3 separate regions of the Homo sapiens genome follow, and regions 2 and 3 are each linked to region 1. Evidence: fine-mapped expression QTL. A gene starts in region 1. Each other region holds a variant in brackets. All regions are shown on one strand. Distances are from middle to middle. Region 1 holds the start of SLC60A1 (solute carrier family 60 member 1). Region 2 holds the start of ELK4 (ETS transcription factor ELK4). Region 3 overlaps SLC60A1 (solute carrier family 60 member 1).

Region 1 (8,181 bases):
GGTTGCAGTGAGCTGAGATTGCGCCATTGCACTCCAGCCTGGGTGACAGAGCTACATTCCATCTCAAATAATAATAATAATAATAATAATAATAATAATAATAATAATAAATGAATAAATAAAAGGCCGGGTGTGGTGGCTCACGCCTGTAATCCCAGCACTTTGGGAGGTCGAGGTGGGCAGATCATGAGGTCAGGAGATCGAGACCATCCTGGCTAACATAGTGAAACCCCGTCTCTACTAAAACTACAAAAAAAATTAGCCGAGCGTGGTGGTGGGTGCCTGTAGTCCCAGCTACTCGGCAGGCTGAGGCAAGAGAATGACGTGAACCCGGGAGGCGGAGCTTGCAGTGAGCCAAGATGATGCCACTGCACTCCAGCCTGGGCAAGAGAGCAAGACTCCGTCTCAAAAAAAAAAAAAAAACACAAGAGTTCAGTGTAGTATAAACACCTCTCACCAAGGAGTCAGAAATCCAGGCACCCAGTGATGAACCAATCCTGTGGTCCTTGCCTTGGAAGGGCGGCACTAAACAGAATCAGCACTAGGATAGTTTGGGAGCCCCAAGGAGGGAGCCTAGGAAGGTCAGAAAAAGGCTTCTGGAGAGCCAACCCTTGAGGCAATTAATAGATTTCAGGCTCCAAGAGCTTGAGAACCCTTTACTCCCACAGATCCTTTATTCCAATTAATGTAACCTTTCCATATTTGGGAGTCTCAGATCACTTTCCTTGGCTTGTGACGGTGGGGGATAATTCCCTTCTAATTTATAAGGGGGGAAATCAGAGAGTAGTTAAAGAAGGATCCAAGGTTTTGCCCTTCAAATTTAAGAATAACCACAAGGTGCCCAACTAAGAACAGACATGTGAATACACAGCACAAAGGAAAGACTGGATAGCGTCTGCCCTTGGGGAACTTGTAAGTGGGAGATAAGACATGTAAATGTAAAGCCAAAAGTAATTGTATAATTTTTGTGCAAACAATTCACCTCACCAGCTATTTGTCCAGGACTTGCTATCTGCAAGGCATTCTTTTATGTGAGGCACATGAGAAGGGGTGGAGTTAGAACACAGGTAAATATACTCCCAGCCCTTAGGAACTCATGATTTAACTGGCTCCCGTAAGGGGCTGGAGGAACAGTCCGTGGAATGTAATACCTGGCCTTGTGAAGATAGGGTAGCAGTACAGGAGTGGATGAGAGTCTTGCTGGAAATAAGAATTTAATAGAATTAATTCATCTGGGAAAGATGCCTAGAGGAGGTGGACAGTGTGTGATGCTGGAAAACAGAAGGGACAGAGAAAGGGATGAAGAAAGCAAAAATAAGCAAAACGTTTTCACATATAGACTTGGCTTTCAGACCCCACTCAAAAGTCACCTCTTCCATGAAGCCTTCCCAGGCAGAATTAGACACTTAGCTCTCCAGGCCCTCAAACCACCCCATTACAGAAGGTACCTCACTGCTGCACAGTTGGCCCCCTGTCTCTGTGGGTTCTGCATTTGTAAATTCAACCAACTGCAAATCGAAAATATTTGGGAAAAAAATTCATCTGTACTGAACATGTACAGACTTTTTTCTTGTCGTTATTCCCTAAACAATACAGTATAACAACTATTTACATAGCATTTACAGTGTATTAGGTATTATAAGTAATCCAGAGATGATTTAAAGTATACAGGCCTATGGATGTAGGTTATATGCAAATACTATGCCATTTTATATCAGGGACTTGAGCACCTTCAGATATTGGTATCTATCGTTTCTCAGCCTTTTGGCAAGACCAAGTGTAGTATCTGTTCTTATCAGATATTGGTATCTGCAGGCACTCCTGGAACCAATCCCCCCACGGGATATGGGATATGGAGAGACAACTGTAACTTGTTTCCATATCTGCTTATCTCAACCAGAGGACCTTGTACAGTACCAGAACCCAATAGGTCTTTGACTATGAAGAGGCTGAGTACTGTATTCACGGTGGAATGCCTCCCTTTATTTTTACTTACTTTTTATTTTTACTTTTTACCATTTTAATCAAGTATAACTTACACACAAAAATGCACAAATCTTAAATCTACAGACCAATAAGTTTTTACATATATTTACACCTGTGTAACTACCACCTAGATCAAGCTTCAGAATGCTTCCAGCATCCCAGGCACTGGGGGCTACCTCATTGTGGCAGGGTCATTTGTTACTGTGGCTAGAGGAGCTGAGCCAGCAAGGTGCTGTAGTTGGGGAACGCCATTTAGGGAAATTATGGAAGGATTTCAGGTGTTTGGGCTAGAGAAGCAAAATCATTAGGGCAAGGTCATTTTGGGTGTGAAGGACTTACATGACAGAGCAATTAGATTTGTTCTGTGTGGGGCCGTGGGGAGCAGTTACAGGGCGAAGCATTTCAATTTTGCCTAAGACCATTTCTACAACCAGAGCTCATCCACACTGCAAGCAGAGCCCCTAGGAATATGCAAGGTCCCCAGCACTAGAGGTGTCAGTCAAGAACAGGACTGGCAAGCATTCAAAGGCAGTTATGGGGAGGGGATAGGGGACTCAATTGGAGGCTATTCCTTCCAATTCTGAGCTTCTATGGTTCCTGGAGTTCTGTGATAGTGGCAGAGAAGACTCAGTCAAAAACTTGTGGTTATGATTTGTTTGGTGTTTTTTCTTTTTTTTTCCCCCAGAGGGTAGCTTTTCAGTTTATTACAATTACTGTGCAGGCCCCCCATCATCACTATCGAATAAGTACTTGTCATTACCCACAGAGTGATGAGCCAGAGGGACCCTGGGGCTCCCCCTTCTCTGGGGCTCACTGTCCAAGAAGGGATAGGGCAGATGCAGGGGTGCGGCTATGAGATGGGACCAGTACCTGCAAGAGAAATTGGTTGCCCCACCTCATGCCAAGTTGTCTTGGGGACACCCGCCCACATACCTCCTCAGTCTTTTCAGCCCTGGTCCCCCTGGTGGGCCAGTGGAAATGATGTCATGGCTCCTGTCATTACCAGAAGACCTGGGCAGAGGGGACACCGCAGGGCCTTACTGTTCTGCCTCCAGGGGCCAGATCCTGGCTCCCTTAGGAGCGGGAACACACAGAACCCACCAGCCAGCCCGAGGCCACCTAATGAAGGGACAGCCTAGGTCAGCTGCAGGCTCCTCGAAGGACACCCAGTCTAGAGAATAATCAACCCCTACTCACTGCCAGGGATTTATCCATGGAAGAAAGAATTTTCCCCAGAACTCTTTTTAAATTTTTTTTTCTAGGAGATTATTTCAGAATTCCTCCCGGGGTTCCTCCAGGACGCGGCCCTTCCCTCTCTGCCCTCCTCCAACTAGTTAGAAGGAGAGAGAGAGAGTCAGCATAGACCAGCGTCATCCTCCTCCTTCCCGCACCTGGCCAGGTGGGGAGGAGGGCCTCATCTCAGGCCCTTCCAGGGAGCTTAGTGTGAGGAAGATGTTGAGTTTCTAGGGTTCTCCTTCTAAAGGGCAATGTGATTAACCTCTTGGGGTTCTAATGAAAGCCATGCACGAATACTCTCCCAAGGAGAAACATATGTACAACAAGATTTTGCCTTCTGTTCTGGGGGAAAGGGGGGTGCCGTTAGACCCTCGAAGTCCATCTGTGAAGCGCCTAGGTTTAAAGGGGTCCGGGTTTCCTCCACTGCCACAGCCCGGGTGCGGGGAGAGGGCCCCTAGCCTTATCCGGAGATACAGGATGTCTCGGGCTCTCCATCTGCCGGGCTCTAAAATGGGCGCTCGGTCCCTGGGGGCTGCATCCGGAGGCTGGGGGGACTGGTCGAGGGAGAGCGGGCGGGGGGCAGCGCGGCTCCCGGTTGGTCTCCGCAGCCGGGGGAGGGCGAGCATGTGCGCTCGGGTAGGAGGGGGAGGCCGGCGCCTGGCACCGCACGGGGAAGGCGCGGGAGCGGACGCACTGCCCACCCGCCGCAGAGGCGCCCCCGCCGCCGCCCGGGCCCAAGGGCGGGGCCCCTCGCTGGGGCGGCCCCTCCCCGCCCCTCCCTCCCCGCCGCGGGCCTCCCCAGCCCGGCCGGCCCTCCCGCGGGCGGCACTCGGGCACCGGGCTCGCCGGGACCAGATCCGCGAGCCCGTCAGCCTGCGCCATGGGCTGCGACGGCCGCGTGTCGGGGCTGCTCCGCCGCAACCTGCAGCCCACGCTCACCTACTGGAGCGTCTTCTTCAGCTTCGGCCTGTGCATCGCCTTCCTGGGGCCCACGCTGCTGGACCTGCGCTGTCAGACGCACAGCTCGCTGCCCCAGATCTCCTGGGTCTTCTTCTCGCAGCAGCTCTGCCTCCTGCTGGGCAGCGCCCTCGGGGGCGTCTTCAAAAGGACGTGAGTGCCGCGCCCGTGCGCCCCCGCCCCGCGGCCCCCGGCACCCACCCTCGCCGGGCCGACCCTTCCCTCCCGCCCCGCGACCCGGCCTCTCCCCCGGCCCCGTGGGGCTGCCCGTCGCCCCCGCCTCCCGGCCGCGACCACCCCTCCCAGCTCCATCTTGGCCGAAGAGCTGCCTCCCTCCCTCCCTCCCTCCCCCGCAGCTCTCCCTGGAAAACTCTCTCCAGAGACTGAAGGTGACTTCTGGCTTATTTATTTGTCATCACTCATCCCTGTGAGAGGATAAAACCAGTTCCCACCTGCTTCCCCCACCCACCGCCCCGTGGGGAGAGGAGTGATAGAGTTTGCAGAGGTGGGGAGGGTGCCCCTCTTACACAGCTCCTCTGGGGTTTGTCAGTAGCCCCGGCTGCCGGGGGCGGGATTGGCAGTGAGGTGGAAGGACCGTGGGAGGGCCAGCTCTGTGGCGGTGCAGGGTGCTGGAGGTGGCCTGCGGCTTGACTGATTCCCAGGGCCAGGCTCCACTGTAGGCAGCTCCACATCAGCTAACACAGGCTGTCCCTTCCCCCGGGTAGCCACGGGGTTTAGTGGGTTCTGTGTAGCCCTCCTCCTGAGGCAGCCAGAACATGGTTCCTGCATGGGCCCCCGAGACACACAGGACCTCACCGTTAAGGCCAGGTTGGGAGGGGCAGGGCACTTTACCCATAGCTTGGTAAGGTGACTCTCCAGCCCTGGTGCCAAGGTTCCCCTCCACTCCCCACCCACCTCATCCTACTCCTGCTGGGCCTCTGCCCCACGACAGGGCTCTGGACTCTCCCTGGCACCACCCCCAGAAATCCCCCTTTGACACTATTGCAGAGCCTTATTCTCTCGGCTTAAATTGGACAGGGCCACCTCCGGGCTCCCTTGTGGAAAGACAGCCAGATTCACTCTCCCAGTGCAGCATGGAAAACAGAGACCCATAATAGAATAGGGAATAGATGACTTGCAAGCCAGAGGCTGCTGCTTGATTTCCCCAGTCCCAGCTCCTGGCTGAGTGGTTTCCTAGATCCCATGGACTCAGTCGAGCAAGCAGCCGGCCTGGAGAAAAAACCGCAGTTGGGCTATCCCAGAGAAACCTCTGGAGGGGCCGTTCTGGGCTGTGGTCATGCCCTTTGGCTTAACGCCTACAGGTGTTCGTGAGGGCAGGTGTTTCCATCCACCTTGCTTCCAGAGCTGGTGGAAGGAGCACAGGTGTCAGTACAGATGGACCCCACTTTAAGCCTTAAAAACATGACCAATTTTGGAAGCGATTATCCCCATTTTCCCCAAATCTTCTTGTAAACCAAATTATTCTCTTCTTAAAAAGCAAGTCTCCTTGTGTACACCAGTGTTTTGTGGGTGTGGTACAGGATTGGAATATACAGAAGATTCAGAAAATCTTAAGGACAAGCTCAAGATTCATTCTGCCTAGAGGTTTAATTAGAAACTAAGATAAAGTATCTGTGGCTAGCACAGGTTTTTTGGTTTTAAGTACTTTGACTTACAAAAGCTCCTTTACCTGGAACTTTTAAAGAAAATATGTAGTGCAAAGAACACGGAGGGGAAGGAGGATAATTTGAAATGACAGGTTGGCAGGGCAGGGTTTGTGAAGCCAGCAGAGATGCACACCCACCCAGCTGGGCCATCTCTTCCTGGGTAGTTTTGTATCTTCCTCAGCACTGCTTACCCAACAGGGGGCTCTGAACAGGCAGCAGAGAGAACCCTGCAGCAGGAACTGGCTCACAGAAGAGAAAAAAAATCATGGTAACAATGATAACTAACTTTATTCTGCACTTACTGTGTGCCAGGCACTATTCATAGTACTTCACATGTATCAGCCCATTTAATCTTCACAACCACCTTGCGAAGTAGTACTGTTATCTCCATTTTATGCATAAGGAAGTGGAGGCACAGAGAGGTTAAGAAACTTGGCCCACATCACATGGTTGTTAAGAAGAGGCCTAGACAGAATTTGAACCCAGGTGTTGTCTCTAAGACAGATACTTAGGCAATCCCTCTTGCTTTGTGAGTCATCAGTGTAAACTCTGCAGATCAGGCACAGGTTTGGGATGAGTAGCCCTAAGGATGCTCATGGGCTGGGTATTCCTGAGCTCTGACAACTTCTGGGAATGTAATGGTGGCCCTCTGGGGCTTCCTGCTGGGATCTTTTTGGGGTGGGGTAGATCCTATCAGTGGTTGAGGTTTAAATTCTGAACCTCAGTCCTCCCACCCCCAAGACAAAATGCCATGAAGAACTCTTTCCTTTGGTTAAGAGCAAAGCAGATATACAGTGGAAACAGAGGGATGTCCAGGGGTGGCCTTGAGTGTAGGCGACAGTCTCCCACCACCTTGCTGACTCTGGGCAGCTCTCATCACAGTCTCCCATCCCCCCAGCCAGAAGCTCCACCAGCCCTGCAACAAAGCTTTAAAGCTGGATTCTGTGGGACCATGTCTCAGTTAAAATGCAATACCCCTGCAAGCAAGTGCTTTGCAGCTTAAGTGATTACCAGCTAACGCTCTCACTTGGTTTATACTTGTGAGTGGGGGATTGCTTTAACAAATCTGTGAGAGCCAGCTGTTGCGGGGGAGTGGGGGAAAGTTTAGGATGACACATGGGAGAGGATAGTTGGGGGCAGTGTCTTTCTCGTGGGTTCCTACTCAGGTCCTGCCTACTGCTGGGCCCAGACTGAGGGCACAGGCAGAATGGGGCTTGTGGATGCCTCCATAGGGATGTGCTTTGGGAGGACTACGTGTGGAAGGTGGAGAGCCTTGGCTATTGGAGTGGGTGCAGGGGAAGACTTGAGCTCAGGGCAGCACCAGCTTGCTCACTCTCTCAGAGAAAAACAAAAAGCCACCTGGTTGGCAAGGGTGTGTAGGTGTGTGCTTTGTCAGGCAGGAAAGGGGAAGGGGTATTTAGATTAAAGGTTAGGATTTTTCCTGGTTTCTTGGGGATCTGTCTAACCGCCCTAGGGAATTAGGAGACCCCTTTATCTCGAAGGCGTCAGCATAGGTAAACAACTTTCAGAGCTTCCCCAGGCTTCTCCCAGCCTCACCTTGGCCTCTCCCCTGCCCATGCTTTCTTAACAGAGGGTTTGTCAGAGGATCTGTTGAGTTCTTCCTCTCTTTGACCTATTCACTTTTCTCTTTTTGTTCCTTTTTTCCCCCTCAAATTCCTCCTAATCTGCAAGTCCTACCCTGCCCCAGACCTAGCTATGACTCCCTCCTGGCCATTGCACCAAACCCTGTCTTCCATACACCAGTTGCCCAGGCCACCCCTAGATATGCTGGCCCCCTCCAGTCCCTGGAACACAGGACAAACCAGCTTCTCCCCTTGAGCTGGGCTGTGGTTGGTCTCCCATCCAGAAAGCCTCTGCCTCTCCCTCCAGCACCTTGTCTACCAGTCAGCATGCAACAAACCTGTGCCAAAAGCCTACTGAGCGTCCAGTACCAGACATTGTCCTTGTTTTAAAAATCAGTCTCAACATGGGGCTATCATAGGGTCCCAACTCCCAGGTATGATCCCCAAAGAATTGAAAATGTATGTCCACACACTAAACCTGTACGTGGATGTTCATAGCAGCATTATTCATCCGAGTCAAAAAGTAGAAACAAACCAAATGTCCATCAGCGGATGGATGGACAAACAAAAACGTGGTTTATCCAGCCAGGTGTGGTGGTGGATGCCTTGTTGTTCCAGCTACCTGAGAGGCTGAGGTGGGACGCTCGCTTGAGCCCAGGAGTTCAAAGACAACCTGGGCAGCACAGTGAGACTCCAGTGTCAAAACCAAACAAAACAAAAATGTGGTATATTGGCCGGGCACATTGGCTCAC
Region 2 (8,181 bases), 64 kb after region 1:
GAGGACAGTAAAAAAAAAAAAATGGCTTTGGCCGGGTGCAGTGGCTCACGCCTATAATCCCAACACTTTGGGAGGCCGAGGCAAGTAGATCACGAGGTCAGGAGATGGAGACCATCCTGGCTAACAAGGTGAAACCCCCGTGTCTATTAAAAATACAAACAATTAGCCAGGCGTGGTGGCGGGTGCCTGTAGTCCCAGCTACTCGGCAGGCTGAGGCAGAATGGCGTGAACCCGAGAGGCGGAGCTTGCAGTGAGCCGAGATCGTGCCACTGCACTCCAGCCTGGGCAACAGAGCAAGACTACGTCTCAAAAAAAAAAAAAAAAAAGAAAAGAAAAAAATGGCTTTGAGGTTTTAGACTGAAGTATTAGAAATGAATTTTGAGAAAAAGATATAAAGTGGACATTTTCACTGGGTACTTTAAAGGAATATTTTATTAATTCAATTATGATATCGTTATTCTTTTGATTGAAAAGCAGCCAACGTCTTCTTACATAGTTAAGTCAAAACTCTTCATTTTAGTTTCAAAAAGTGTGGTATTAACAATGATCTTCAATGATTTCATCAGATATAAAAGAGAGCTGGCCGGGCACAGTGGCATACGCCTACCATCCCAGCACTTTGGGAGACCAAATCGCTTGAGGTCAGGGGTTCTAGACCAGCCTGGCCAACATGGTGAAACCCCGTTTCTATTAAAAATACAAAAATTACCTGGGCGTGGTGGTGGGCACCTGTAATTCCAGCTACTAGGGAGGCTGAGGCAGAAGAATCATTTGAACCCAGGAGGCGGAGGTCACAGTGAGCTGAAATCACACCACTGCACTCCATCCTGGGCGACAGAGCAAGACCCTGTCTCAAAAAATAAATAAATAAAATAAAAGCTAAAGAAAAAAAATCCCCTAAGACAGTTATTAAAAATTATGTGGTTGCTTCATGCCTGTAATCCCAGCACTTTGGGAGGCCAAGGGGGGAGCTTGAGCTCAGGAGTTCACGACTGGCCTAGGCAACATGTTGAAACCCTGTCTTTACCAAAAATACAAAAAATTAGCCGGGTATGGTAGTGCGTGACTACTCGGGAGGCTGAGGTGGGAGAATGGCCGGGAGATGGAGGTTGCAGTGAGCAGACACCACATCACTGCACTCCAGCCTGGGCAACAGAGTGAGACCTTGTCTCTAACAAAAACAAAAACACAACAAAACAAAACCAAACAAAACCTTTTATTCTTGTTACCTATCAAAAAAAAAAAAGAGGCTAATTACTTGATTTTCCTTCTTACAGGAATCCCGAGTTTTCCACAATTGCAATTTTTAAAGTTTAAAGTTATAACAAAGGAAGAAAACACTTAACTGGTCCAAATGAAGGTATTTGATTTTTGAGGGGGTAAAGGCTGAAAACATAATTGATTCTATTTTAACACTTCAAAGATAGACCAATCCCTGTCCTAAATTGAAAGGGAGCATGTTGAAGTAATGTATTAAGGAAAGGAAGTCTCTATTAAATAAAACCTTTTCCACCCTAAACATGTTTATAATACACACAGTCCAGTTGCTGTGGTGACCCATAGCCCAACTATTTTTCAGAGACAGTAGCTAAGACCCAAAAAAACACAAAGTCTCCAAATTTTCTTCAGCCTGCTACTTAAAAAACCAAGTTATGAATGTATCAAGCCTAGTTTCGAATCAAAATACTCACCGTTGTCAAAAAGTAACCAAAAGTAACATGACGTTTTTAACTACACAGGCTCCTAAAAAATACTCTTTGTATAGGATCCTGCACAGTTCTTACAATATTCTTACAATAAAACTTAAAGACACTACCTCACTAGGAATGAACAGATTCCACTTACGCAGTTTTAATGTTTAAGTAAAATCAAAGAGAAGAGTGTTCCTGAAGGGAAAATATTGAATCATACTACATTTTAATGAAAACACCGCTGCCAAACCTAAATATTGAAGCACCAAGTTTTCCAAGCCAGGGGGTGTAGGGGGTGGGAAAAGACGACAGAGGATCTGATCTATCAACCAAAGAGATGGACAAACCATTCTGATGAGGCATAGAACTCCAGAATCTTTATTTAAATTCCCCAAATTTCAAATAGCAATAGCTGGAGAAAAAGTGAAGTGTGTACTTTTGACTACTTCAGTCAACAACATCCCTATTTCCTTCCAAGGCCAGTTACTATCCCGCCCCGAAAGATGTTTCCAATTGATCTTCCCAGGAATGAAGTTACCAGCCTCGATGCAGCTGTGCACAAGGCGGAAAGTAAAGAGGGGCGGGGGGCCGCTGGAGCGAAAGAGAAAAAGAAATGAAACTCGACACCGGATGACTAGCGAGCTAGGGGAGAGGAAGAAACGCGGACGGCCGCGTGTGCCCTACAGGAGATCAAAGTCTGGGGGAAGAGGTGCAACCTCACCGGGCCTTGGTAAGCACTGAATTACTGTACTTTCATTTTCCAACTTCCTGTCACTACAGAAAATGAGAATTGCTCCCCTCCTCCCCATCCACGCCGAAAAAATCGCCGCCACCTTTCGCCCACGAGACTTCGGGGGACCAAGAGGCGACGAGAGCTGAGCGGTGCGCTGCGGCGTCCACCTGTGCGCCGCGGTGCCCGGCGGGCCGGGGGCGGACCCAAGGGGAGCGCGCGCGCCCGGCCCCGGCCCCCGCCCCCACTTCCTGTTGTGCCGCGCGCCCCTCGGCCCCCGCCCCCGCTCCCGGCCGGTGGGGCTGTGGCCGCGAGATCCCGAGGGGGCGCGCGGGGCTGACCGCTCACCGACGCCGCGCGCGGGGCTCCCCCTCGGTCTCCGCCTCGAACACGATGCGCCTCTCCGCCCTCAGCCTCCTCCTCACGCTGGAAACTCGAGGACGGCGCGGCAGCCGCTGCGACCCCCGCGGCGGAGCCGTAGAAGGCGGCGGCGGCCAAGCCGAGCCCGCCGGGTGCCCGCAGCCGCCCGCATCTCCCGCCGCCGCGGCTCCTGGCGCCCCGCCCTCCCCGCCCCCGCACGCGGCAGCGGCGGCGCGGGTCTTGGGGCCGCTACACGCCGGGCGCGCGCGTTCGGGGCGTTCCTTGCAGCGGCGGGGCCTGCCAGGCCCTCCGCGGCCGCCGCCACTCTCAAACCCCCCGACTGCTCCTGGGTCCCTCCCAGACGCCGTAGTCGCTACACGTCACTTCCGGGGGAGGGGCTGCGACCCTAAGGGGTGTCGTGAGCCGCGTCTGCCAGCAAACCCGGGTTTGGTGTGGCCGGGGGATGTAGCTCGGGCGCCTCCTGGAGTCGTCTCGCCGCTCTCCGTCGCGTTCGGTGCGGTTGCTTCCAGGTCCCTGAGGCGCCCGTCCGGAACCCGCCAGGACCCAAGCTGCCGCCTGGGCCGGGACCTCGGACTCCTCAAAGGCGCGCCACTTTCTCCTCGGTTGGAGGGAAGAGGTGGCGCTCGCAGAGCAACCTGCGGGGGACCACTTCTGTTGGTGCTAAGCTTTGG[G/C]GAGAGTCTCCTCCCTCCTGTGTCCCTCGTCCTCCTTACCACTCGCTGTTAGAAGTTGGGGCCGTCACAGCTTTCTCATCGAAGTGCCAGATCCCAGGACACTACAAACGCTTGATAAATACTAAATTAGCACTGTGGCTTTCTAGCCTGGGGACTGACAAATGGAAGCGCTGGAGTCGTGGGAAAAGCTTGCCCTGACGATGGAGGCAGCGACCAGAAATCCATTCGTGGCTCTACCCCTCACTAACTCACCAATTTTAAGCAACCTTAACCTCTCTAAAACAGTCATCATTTATAAGGTGGAGAGAACCCAATCTTAGAGTTGTTGTAATGATTAAAGAAAATAAGGTGCATGAAACACCTAGCAAGAGTTTCTAGCTTAGAGGTTCTCATTAAGTAAAATTCTTAAGGAATCAGGTCACACTTGATACAAGAGGCTACTTGAGCAGTTTAGCACCAGAAGGAATGTAAAGTCATAAATTAGGACAGCTGAACAAAACCTCCAAGAAATAAATTAGGTGTTTGTTTAACAAGAAACCAAAGAGAGGTCAGTGTCTGAGTTACTGGTTATTCGAGGCCATTTACTAGCTGTGTGACCTGTAGTGAGTTGCTTAACCTTTCTGGACCTCAGTTTCCTCATGTAAAATGACGATAATGAGCAGCATTGCTGAGAGGATTAAATGAAGTATAGAGCATAATGTACTTAGTGCATTACCTAGCACATAGTAGATACCCAGTAAATCGTGGTGTCATTTATTTTTGCCCCCACAATTGAATGTATAGTTAATTGAACTCACTGAGTGAAATGTGATTCTGTCATCCTTTTGTAGGCTTTTGGAAGAGAATCATCACTTCCTTGATTTCCAGCCTCCTCTTCCATAATACAGAGTAATTATAATCCACAAAGGTAGCTATTCCTGTAAAAACAACTCTACCAAAAGATGTTACCTTTCCAAAATTAGTTTTACCAAAGCATGCAAACATATTAAGACATGTTTTATAAGGAACATGCAGTATCTGAAAAGCACTAGCAGTCTTGGCCCCTAACATAAAATTTTCCTTGCAACAAGTTCCATCTTGGAAACCAAGAAAAAAAAAAGTATTAAGGTAGGCTGTTTAGGATACACCTATTGGAAACATTTGTTTATAAAAAGATTTCATTTTAAAGCCCCCTACCAAGAACAGTTAAGGGTTGTGGAGATCTGCACACTACGCTGCTCTGTTCAAACTGGCAGTAAACATCTGATTCGGCCTTAGGGCCAGTAGTTGTGTCATATCCCTTTTAGACTGAGCTTACGGCATTGTCAATTGCAGTGTATTTTTGGAAAACAGCCTGCTTTGGGAGTTCTTAAATTAGTCATAGCAAATCTGTCTGCTTTTAAATTGACTTTTTTTTAAGGCGGTACATATTGACAGAAGAGAAAGGAAGAAAAGTGGATTTCTAATTAGAGAACTTGAGGGGAAAAGTTAATTAATGTGCCTGGTTTTCCCACTCAAGATTCTATAAATACACAATCTCTCTCCATGGTTCCTCACACAACAGATGGTTCTGTTTGTGCAAACTCCATGGTAGTTACGTTGGTCAACCAAAAAGACTGCTTTTTCGTTATCTTGTTTGGTCACTTTCCCACCAGATAGATGGATTCCTGATCTTAGCCTTAGTTACTCAGAGCCATCCCAAAGAAAATTTGTAGATTTTATTACAATGTTTATTTATTTTTTTGAGACAGAGTTTCGCTCTTCTTGCCCAGGCTGGAGTGCAATGGCGCAATCTCGGCTCACCGCAACCTCCGCCTCCCGGGTTCAAGCGAGCCTCCTTCCTCAGCCTCCCAAGTAGGTGGGATTACAGGCATGCGCCACCATGCCCGGCTAAATTTTTTTGTATTTTTAGTAGAAATGGAGTTTCTCCGTGTTGGTCAGGCTGGTCTCGAACTCCTGACCTCAGGTGATCCGCCCGCCTCGGCCTCCCAAAGTGCTGGGATTACAGGCGTGACCCATCACGCCTGGCTTAAAATGTTTAAATATGTATTTTCTACCTGGCCTGCCCTAGATTTTGTTTTTTGTTTTTTGTTTTTTGTTTTTTTTTTTGAGACAGAATCTCACACAGTCACCCATGCTAGAGTTACAGTGGCACAATCTCGGCTCACTGCAACCTCCGCTTCCCGGGTTCAAGCGATTCTTCTGCCTCAGCCTCCTGAGTAGCTGGGACTATAAGTGTGCACCACCACGCCCAGCTAATTTTGGTATTTTTAGTAGAGACGGGGTTTCACCGTGTTGGCCAGGCTGGTCTCAAACTCCTAACCTCGTGATCCGCCTGCCTTGGCCTCCCAAAGTGTTGGGATTACAGATGTGAGCCACCGGGCCTGGCCTAGATTTTTTTTCTTAATCACTGCAGTTAACTCAGCTCTGCAACCCCTTGCCCCTAATTTAATTACATTTCCTATCCCAATAACACCTAGTTATGATCATTACTTCTCAAGGCAACTTCCTCTTCCCTCTCTTTATTTCACTGCTTCATCATTACTCCCAGTCACTATCCCTTTTTCCTAAAGAAGTGTTTCACGGATTTTTGACTGACTAAGCAAGCATGGAGCCATCCAGTTGCCTGTTACGTCTTTCAAGCAATATCCTGTAGCACGTGACATTAAGAAGAGATATCTTTTAAGTCAAAGACAGCACCCACAACCCCAGGTGGGGACAAGTGTGGAGCAAATTGCAACATGACTGAGAAGAAAGAATAAAAATCTGGGATATCTGGGTTCTAGCCTTTGGGTCTCCCTAAACTCAAAACTTGAACCTCCTGAGAAAATCCTTGCGACTTACCCTTTCTGGGTTTCACTTTCAACATCTTTAGAAATAAAAGAGACATACCTTTCACTTCATGTCTGTAATGGATAGACTAAAAGAAAAAGGCAGTAGGCTGGTTGTGGTGGCTCACACCTGTAATCCCAGCACTTTGGGGGGCTGAGGCAGGTAGATCACCTGAGGTCAGGAGTTCAAGACCAGCCTGGCCAACATGGTGAAACCCCATCTCTGTTAAAATACCAAAAAAATTAGCCAGGTGTGGTGGCAGGCACCTGTAATCCCAGCTACTCAGGAGGCTGAGGCAGGAGAATGGCTTGAACCCGGGAGGTGAGGGTTTCAGTGAGCTGATACCGTGCCACTGCACTCCAGCCTGGGTGACAGGAGCGAAACTGCGTCTCAAAAAAAAAAAAAAAAAAAAAGCGGTTGATCAAATGATGCTTTGAACTCTTGGTAAATAGCCCTATTGCTGTTATATTTGTGTGGACTGAGATCTTAGATAGAGGTAAAGTTATCTTTGAAAAGAAAACTCTGGCTAGCTGTATATTGAATCTGGCAGCACTGGCAACCCCTACTACCTGTTAAGGTCCTAAACTTTACCAAATATAACCAGTAAACGTTTCATCCCCAATAATAAGGCTTTTAATCAGAGGGTATTAAGGGTCCGGAGAAAACCCAATCTGAAGGTCATTGAACAAGGTACTTGTGGCCTCTAGACTGTGAAGTAAACTCATGGCAACATCTTTCAGGACTAGCTGTAATCTCCACACAATACATTGTTTTTTCAGAGAGGACATGACGAGACATGAGTTATTGCAATTACCGCCTGAGGCATAGCAACTGTCTAATATGTTTGATGACCTGTCACAAACACAGGTCAGAAAATAGCTTCATATAATTTTCATTCTTGATCTCTACACCCAGTCTACTTATTTTCTTTTAATATTTTTAACCTCAAGTAATTTTATTGGTCTTTGATAAATGTATTATTTCTAGACTTATAAAAATTGATATGGAATATGTAATAGAGAAAGAAGAGAGAATATATCAATTTTTTTTTGAGACAAAATCTCACTCTGTCACCCAGGCTGGAGTGCAGTGATGGGATCTCGACTTACTGCAACCTCTGCCTGCCGGGTTCAAGCGATTCTCCTGCCTCAGGCACCTGAGTAGCTGGGATTACAGGCGTGTGCCACCATGCCTTGCTAATCTTTGTGTATTTAGTAGAGACGGGGTTTCGCCATGTTGGCCAGGCTGGTCTCAAACTCCTGACCTCAGGTGATCTGCCCACCTTGACCTCCCAAAGTGTTGGGATTACAGGCGTGAGCCACCTTTGGAAAAGGTGTTCCTTAATTGATAAAAGCTCATGAAATCTGCCTTTTGTATAATTGTTTAAGATTCTGGTGTTTGGACCAGCTCCTTGCAGAATACATATTGCTCTGAATTTTAAGCCAAAATAATTTTTCCTCTCTGGTGTATTTTATAATCACTGTCTGGAAAAAAAACTTCTTCAATTAAAGTTAATTAAGGAAGCACCAATATATGATACTATGCTGTTATTACAGAAGAAACTCAAAGAGCATTTGCTCTTCTAGGAATTCTGAGTCTTGAATTGGCAACACTGACACCCTCAGCGACCATCATTGCTGTCCACGACTTCCAGCATTTTCAGAATTCTTTTGCTATCCCGTTGACATGAACAAAGAATTCAGCTAAGGATTCAGAAATGATGGGAGAGGCAGTCAGGCTGACAAACGAAGATATAAGTGCAGCTCTGAGCAGGGTTTTGTGTTGTGAGGGAAGTAAAATGAGGGTTTGGAGAGAGTAAAATTACCACCTCCCACTGCATTAAAGAACATTTCCTGGAAAGGGTGGAGTTTGAAAGACTTGGTGCTAATTCAAAAAG
Region 3 (8,181 bases), 37 kb after region 1:
CCAAAGTGCTGGGATTACAGGCGTGAGCCACTGCACCCAGCCAAAAATTTTACATCTTTTATAGAGGGAAAAAAACTCTTTATACCATGGCAAGGCCTTTTCTTTCACAAAAAGCTGGGCCTACTGAACAATTCAAGCTGTGCAGTAGTAGACTGAAAGCAGGATTTGTTGAGGAGTTACAGCTCCTGTCCAGAGCAAATCCTGTAGTGATACAAGGAGAATGTAAACTTGCCAGCTTAGACAGGGATCAGTCCTGAGACTGCTGGCAGTAGCAAATGGCTATTAGAGTAACTGTATAATGGTTTTGCCTGCACTTTCTCTATGTATATACAAATGTACATGTATAAATATAAAAATTAAGTGATCATGGTTCTTGGTAACCTGTCCCAAGTGCTGTGATTCACACGCCTGACACTAAAAGGTTCTTCCTGGTCCAGTCAGCCAGCTGTGACCACCAGCAGCACAGCTGAGTGCTGAGAATCTGGCTGGAAAGAGAAACGTGGCTCAAGTGCTGGCTCACCTTCTAGCTGTGTGGCCCTGGGCAGGTTACTGAGGCTCTTCCAACCTCACTTTTCACATGTAAAATGGCATTTCTAAAAGTACCTACCCTACCTCAAAGGAATTCTGAAAAAAGTAAGTGAATTTGTATAAAGCAAAGCACTCACAATATGCCTGACACACAAACTGCTTAATAAATGTTAGTAATTTTTAAAACCTCCTCATAAGCGGCTTAGAAATTATTCATGTTTGGTACATATTTATTGCAAGTCAAGCAGATCCAACTTTTTTGAAAGCTGGTGGTCTAGGAGTATAGTTTTAATTATATTTGTAAATACTCAAAAGTATTAGATGCCAGTCTAATTTAAATGCAGTCTGACTGTAGCGAGTAACTGACCTGGGCAATGAAAAAGCAGTTGTATTTTTCTTGTGGTTTTTCAAGAAAATATCCTTTTTATACAGATTTAGAAAGAAGAATCAATGGCTATATCGAAGTTGATTGTGACTAATTTGTTAATACAGAAAACAACATTAACACAAATCTAAGAGTACCTTTCCTAAAATAAAATATTTAAACTTATTAAGTGTGTTATCCATTATGAAGAACAATTGATCCTCTTGCATACACTCAGAAACAAATGGTCTGATGTTCCCCAGAGGCAGGTCTCTCTCATACTAATAAGTTAATGTGGCTTATATTTTAGAAGAAAGAAAACTGTCTCACAAGGGAAACTCTGAATTTTTTTAAAAAAAGATAAATAAATAAATAAATAAATAACCTCTCATAGCAGGGCTAAGTGCCACTATTCCCTATTACATAAAATCAGAATAAGGAATAAGGAAAAGGCAGGTCGATTCTTACACCACACGCTTCTCAGTTACACAAGTAGGACTTTCTTCCTCATCTTCCTTTCAGGAATTTGGACATTTCAGAATCCTGTGGAATCACCCTGTTCCCAGATTTTCCTCTGCTACTTGTATATGGAAATCTAACCCATCAGGCACATCGGATTCACTAAAAGAAGACACAGTGACATAGAGTTCTTTTAGAGTGAATTTCGTTTATTCAGTCAAAAAGGATTTGTTAAGCACCTGCTATGTTCAAGGCACTAATCTAGGTACAGACATACAGTGGTGACTGAGACAGAAGTCCCTGCCTCACAAGGATTATACCGCAGGTGAAGACATACAGACAGCAAACAAATACTACACGTAACATGCCACAGGGTGAGGGGTAATGTAGCACCATAGAGAAACATACATACAGGGAATATGGAATAGGATATGGGAATGCCACAGGGTGAGGGGTAATGTAGCACCATAAAGAAACATACAGGGAGTATGGAATGGGAATAGGGAATGTCAAGAGATGCTCTAGGGCCAGGCACAGTGGCTCACACCTGTAATCCCAACACTTTGGGAGGCTGAGGCAGGCGGATCACCTGAGATCAGGAGTTCAAGACCAGCCTGGCCAACATGGCAAAATCCTGTCTCTACTAAAAATACAAAATTTAGCTGGGCCTGGTGGTGCACACCTGTAATCTGTAATCCCAGCTACTGGGGAGGCTGAGGTGGGAGAATTGCTTGAACCTGGGAGGTGGAGGTTACAGTAAGCTGAGATTGTGCCACTGCACTCCAGCCTGGGTGACAGGGTGAGGCTCTGTCTCAAAAAAAAAAAAAAAAAAAAAAAAGATGCTCTGGAAGGCGTTTCTAAGGAGGTCCTATTTGTGTAGAAAACTAAATGATACGTGGGACCAAGCTATCCAAGTACGTGAAAACATCCCATCAGGCAGGGGGCACAGCAAGTACAAGAGCCTTAGGCTGGAATATGCTTATGGTATTGGAGGAACAGCAAGTAGGCTGGTGTGGCTCAACTGCAGTGAGGAAGAGTCAAACGGAACAAGTGGGAGTGGTTGCTAGAGGCCAGATCATACAAGCCATGGTATGTGTAGAGGTTTTTTGGAGTGATGTAAGATGACTGGAAGAGTTGTGAGCAGGCAAGCGACACGATCTGATTTACATATCTAAAGTATCACTGGTTACTATGGAAAAGAGACTATGGGGCAAGCATGGAATTGGGAAGACCACCTGGGTACCACTGCAATAGACTGAAGAAATAATGGTGGCTTGGAAATGTAGATAGCAACGGAAGTGGTGAAAGTGATTGGATTCAAGCAATATTTTGAAGGTGAAACTGACAATTTGCTGATGGATTGGGTGTAGTGTGAGAAAGATAAGAATCAAGGATGGGCCGGGAACGGTGGCTCACGCCTGTAATCCCAGCACTTTGGGAGGCCAAGGCAGATGGATCACCTGAGGTCAGGAGTTCGAGACCAGACTGGCTAACATGGCAAAACCCTGTCTCTACTAAAAATACAAAAATTAGCTGGGTGTGGTGGCAGGTGCCTGTAATCCCAACTACTCGGGAGGCTGAGGCAGGAGAATCGGTTGAACCTGGGAGGCAGAGGTTGCAGTGAAGTGAGATCACGCCACTGCACACCAGCCTGGGTGACAAGAGTGAAACTCCGTCTCAAAAAAACAAACAAAAAAGAATCAACGATGACCTGAAGGAATCTGACCTAAGTAACTGGGTACATGATGAAGCCATTTAACTCTGGAAGGCCATGGGGAGACATTCTGAGTTCTATTTTGGACATGATCATCTTATGATGCAATCTTGGATGTCAAGAAGGCTGTTAGATATAGAAGTCTAGAGTTTAAAAGAGAAGTCAAAGCTGAAGATACAAATTTTGTGGTCACATAAAGAAGTATTTAAAGTCATAGGACTAAAATGACACAAGCTAGGGAATGAATGTAGAGATGGACAGATTGAGCCCTGGGATTCTTCAACATCTAGAGTTTTAGAAAAAGAACAAGTCCCAGCAGCGCACATGAGAAAAGCCAGAGAAATAGGAAGTTCAGGAGAAAATGTGGTTTCCTGGAGGGCACATGAAGTGCATCTCAAGAAGGAGTTAAGTAATCAGTGCTGCCAAGAGGTCCAATGAACACCGAATGTCAACCACCAGATGTGGCAACATGTAAGGCAATATGACCTTGACCAAAGAAGATAGTTTTGGTTAATTATGGTGACATATTCAAAACATATGGTGGTGGCTCATGCCTGTAATCTCAGTGCTTTGGGAAGCCAAGGTGGGAGGATCATTTGAGCCCTGAAGTTTGAGGCTGCAGTGAGCCATGACTGTGCCACTGCACTTCAGACTGGGTGACAGCACGGTTGACCCCAAAACAAAACAAAAAACATGGGAACCATCCAATGGACTCCTTAACACCAATGCTTGTCAGCTGACTGGCACAGCTGTTTGAGTTTGCGCTTTTTTTTTTTTTTTTGAGACGGAGTTTCACTCTCATTGCCCAGGCTGGAGTGCAATGGCGTGATCTTGGCTCACTGCAACCTCCGCCTCCCGGGTTCAAGCGATTCTCCTGTTTCAGCCTCCCTAGTAGCTGGGATTACAGGCACGCGCCACCACACCCAGCTAATTTTGTATTTTTAGTAGAGACAGGGTTTCACCTGTTGGTCAGGCTAGTCTCTAACTCCTGACCTCCGGTGATCTACCTGCCTCAGCCTCC[T/C]AAAGTGCTGGGATTACAGGCGTGAGCCACTGCGCCCGGCCCACTCCTGTTTCATTTAATAAAATGAAGTCACTTTCATAGACTCCCTGCAGTTACAGGGGGTCGGTCGTCCAGTTAGTACAGTGTTTTGTAGCAACAATCAATGTGAAATCATCTAACTGTTAATTATTATCTCCTACCTGATAATGCCAACCCTGGAAAATTACCCAATATTAGGGTATTAGTTTGTCATTAAACGCACCTATAAAACACAGAAAGTGCTTGCAAAACAGGTAGGCTTCTCAAAATAAGTGTCAACAGTCAGAAAGGTTAGAAAACGGTGGTGACTTAAACAGGCTTTTTTTTGTTTGAGATGGAGTCTCGCTCTATCGCCCAGGCTGGAGTGCAGTGCCATGATCTCAGCTCACTGCAAGCTCCACCTCCTGGGTTCACGCCATTCTCCTGCCTCAGCCTCCCAAGCAGCTGGGACTCCAGGCGCCCGCCACCACGCCCAGCTAATTTTTTGTATTTTTAGTAGAGACGGGGTTTCACCGTGTTAGCCAGGATGGTCTCGATCTCCTGATCTCGTGATCCACCTGCCTCGGCCTCCCAAAGTGCTGGGATTACAGGCATAAGCCACCACGCCCAGCCTAAACAGGCTTTTTAACTGAAGGACTTGGCACTTTTCATATTCTGAAATTTCCTTTTGAATTTCCGTGAAGAACCCATTTCCCAAACTGATTTTACCTCGTGGGACTACCGTCGCAGTTGATACTCTGAGAGCAGTGTGTTAGGAGCATGCAGTAGTCCTCACTGTGCTCCACATGCTGACTGACCCACCAACCAAAGTGACATTTCACCCATTTCACCAGGGTAGTGAACTGCCCCCTTTGCCCCAGAACAATCTGTCACTCTATCCTCCTGTGATTTTCATTAAGAGATACGAAAACAGCTCTCTGCTGTCATTTTGCCACCTATAAACCCCACTTTTGGGCTGGTTACAGTGGCTCATGCCTGTAATCCCAGCACTTTGCGAGGCCAAAGCGGGCGGACCACCTGAGGTCAGGAGTTCCAGACCAGCCTGACCAACACGGAGAAAACCCGTCTCTACTAAAAATACAAAATTAGCCGGGTGTGGTGGCGCATGCCTGTAATCCCAGCTACTCGGGAGGCTGAGGCAGGAGAATCGCTTCAACCCAGGAGGCAGAGGTCGCAGTGAGCCGAGATCGCACCATTGCACTCCAGCCTGGGCAACAAGAGCAAAACTCTGTCTCAAAACAAAACAACCCACTTTCCCTTATGTATATTATTTTGACCCAATTCTAAAAAAGCCTAATTTCATTTGCTAAGTGAAGTCTACATTGCTTTTTACAAGGGCTAGATAAAAGCCTCTGATTTTTTTTTCTTTTTTTTTGAGATAGGATCTTGCTCTGTCACCCATGATCACACCAGTGCAGTGGTGTGATCTCAGCTCACTGCAACCTCTGCCTCCCGGATTCAAGCGATTCTTCTGCTTCAGCCTCCCGAGTAGCTGGGACTACAGGCACACCCCACCACGTCCAGCTAATTTTGGGAGGATTTTTAGTAGAAACAGGGTTTCACCATGTTGGCCAGGCTGGTCTCAAACTCCTGACCTCAGGTGATCCACCTGCCTTGGCTTCCCAAAGTGCTGGCATTACAGGTGTGAGCCACTGCACCCAGCTGATTAAATTTTTAAAAACCCTTTATTTTTCAAGTAAAACAAAAAGAGATTTCACATGGTGAATATTTTTTCTAGCCACTCAGTTCTCTCTTAATTCCTTTTATGTCAACAATCATTTTACAATCTCCCCTGTTCACCACCTATCTGAATCTAGACTTTAAATATTTTAATGTAGATACATATCAAATTGTTGAAGGCCAGATTTTAATGATAGCCATTGGGAAAACAACTCTTTCCTGACCCACAGTTAGCATGGATGAAAATGTAATACAGAGACTGTAAAGAGACCACCTCAATGAATGTGAGAGAAGGGAATAAATAATCAATTCAGAAAATCATTTTGTTAAAAATATTTATTTAAAAAAATACAACTGCTGTCCATATCTAGTTGCACATATATCTATTAACATATATGTATACTTTTAGACTTGTAGTAAATTTGCTACAGTGCTTTTGTAAAGCCAGCCTGCATTATACAAAGCAAATTCCTCTGTCAGTTCTTACATAAAATAGATTTTTAAAAATGTATATCTTTCCTAAAAGATGCATATCACCATTATAGAATTTAACAAAATTTTTGCATAAAACCTGGGAAGTGATAGAAAAAATGATCACCTGATTGGTCAGAGCAACCCCTTACTATGTCTGGAGATGCACTGAGTATCAACTACACATTTTTTTTTTCAAGCAGCATATTATTATAAAGCCCTCAAAGTGCTTTTGCATCCTTTCGCTCACCTCTCTACACTCTATAAAGTTTCTCTGCCGTATACAGATAGAATTCAAGACTCTAGCTACAATCATCCTAATCAATCTTAGAGCAATATCCCTTTGTTTCCCAACAGGTAAGTCAGACTGCTTAGCTAGGAGATGTGGCAGCTTCCCTCCAGCTGTTTCATCAACTAACATGAAGTTTAATAAATGTTAGCAGTGACCATTTTAATTGCTTTTTTAGGAAAAAGAAAAAAAAAAGGTGCTTTTAATACTTTGAAGGTGCTTTTTAGGTCTCCCTAATGTAAATTATGCTGAAATCAACTAAGACGAGCTATTATTAACACTTTAACAGTTATCCATTCCTCTGGGTAGGTGTGCACTTACATTATATGTAAGTATCTCTACAAAGTGTTAGATACTGGATATGAGATACAGATTTCAATAAAACAAGGGAAAAAATAAGCAATGAAGTAACTGTCTTCTCAGTTGAGCTGACAGGTTTGAAGAAAGCACTCTTGACATGTTCTTACTACCACATATCCCAAACTAAGACATACACATAAAATAACATATCTCTCCTGTGTTAACACTGATGGAGACGCACTGCAATAGTCCCATGGCAGACATATGCTTTTCTTCTGAATTACAGATTGGCTTAATGAAAATTAAGAGTTTATTATTAAGCATCTTTTAATTTTTAAGTGATGTTCATACTTGACGGTTCAGAAACTGCCACTGCCACTGTGGTTAAATCACTTGGTGTATGGAATTTAAAATAATCTAACCTAGAGCTATTTCCCATTAATCAAACTCATCCCTAATTGTCTCTTAGGAAGGTCTTCTTTAAAGAAGATCGAGTAGGGCTCATGAAAAATTATTGGTTTGTTCTTCAAAATGCAAAGTTACATACCCTTATTTTTTAGCCAATTTGATTATTTGGTAAAGCAAGGGCATAATTTTAAGAAACTAATTTTAATCAAAAATTTTTACTTGCCTCAAACTAAAGCTAACCAGTAGCAAAATGACTGGACTGAATTTCATATTTAATCTTCCCTGCCCACAAAGATAAATGAAACTGCTCAAAGGCAAAAATAAAGAAATATAATTGTGATTAGAAAAGATCCAGGGCCAAAACAAATAAATAGGCCTCAAGGAATAAAAAATTAATTGTATTCGTTTCTTTTCTATCTTTACATATACGCATCTGTCAATTTCACTAATACTGAACAGGGAAGTTCATAAAAATGCTACTCTACCACTTAAACAATAAATGTAAGCAATGAATGTACATACAAAGGCCACTGGTTAATACTGCCCCAAGTAACAAAACAATGAAATGTCAGGATTGTGTCCCCTACACAATAGACAATAAGCAACAATGACCAAACAGAAAAGAAACTTAAAATTGGATACTTTATAAATTTAAGTGTAATCTATCAATTGCAAATTATTTTTAAAAATCGTAAATTTCTACAAAGCACAATATTAAAAGCTTGCAAATTATTTTAAAATATCCTAGCCAAAAGGGCATACCTTACAGAGCCTAGAAGAATGGCTCATTAGGTAACCCATTTATCCCTTCTACAAACACCCTATAAATTCCAGAAAACATAAACAAGAAATAAACCTTACTTCTCTGACCCTCAATATCCTTAAGTTGAAATTAAACAAACAAAATAATCATTAAGTGCTTCCAGTTA

What was found. PIP is the estimated chance that this variant, and not a neighbour inherited with it, causes the effect.
Region 2: its variant is fine-mapped to the expression of SLC60A1 in tibial artery (GTEx, PIP 0.96).
Region 3: its variant is fine-mapped to the expression of SLC60A1 in thyroid (GTEx, PIP 0.97).

Annotation. Positions count from the first base shown.
Region 1 is chr1:205,564,968-205,573,148 of GRCh38, forward strand. It overlaps SLC60A1 (solute carrier family 60 member 1), which reads left to right and starts at 4,047. Exons shown (of 10, transcript NM_181644.5): 1 at 4,047-4,332. The coding sequence starts at 4,103. SLC60A1-AS1 (SLC60A1 antisense RNA 1) reads right to left here and starts at 4,338. Exons shown (of 4, transcript NR_152721.1): 1 at 4,162-4,338. It also overlaps the pseudogene RNU2-19P. RefSeq lists enhancers at 4,328-4,877, 4,878-5,426.
Region 2 is chr1:205,628,863-205,637,043 of GRCh38, forward strand. ELK4 (ETS transcription factor ELK4) reads right to left here and starts at 3,149. Exons shown (of 5, transcript NM_001973.4): 1 at 2,770-3,149. RefSeq lists enhancers at 1-193, 2,197-2,616, 3,227-3,536 and silencers at 2,627-2,816, 2,907-3,056. The variant G/C (reference allele first, on the strand shown) is at 3,474.
Region 3 is chr1:205,601,841-205,610,021 of GRCh38, forward strand. SLC60A1 (solute carrier family 60 member 1) reads left to right here. Exons shown (of 10, transcript NM_181644.5): 10 at 1-1,078. It overlaps ELK4 (ETS transcription factor ELK4), which reads right to left. Exons shown (of 5, transcript NM_001973.4): 5 at 6,103-8,181. Among named protein-coding and RNA genes, the nearest start is that of ELK4, 26 kb to the right of the region's middle. The variant T/C (reference allele first, on the strand shown) is at 4,087.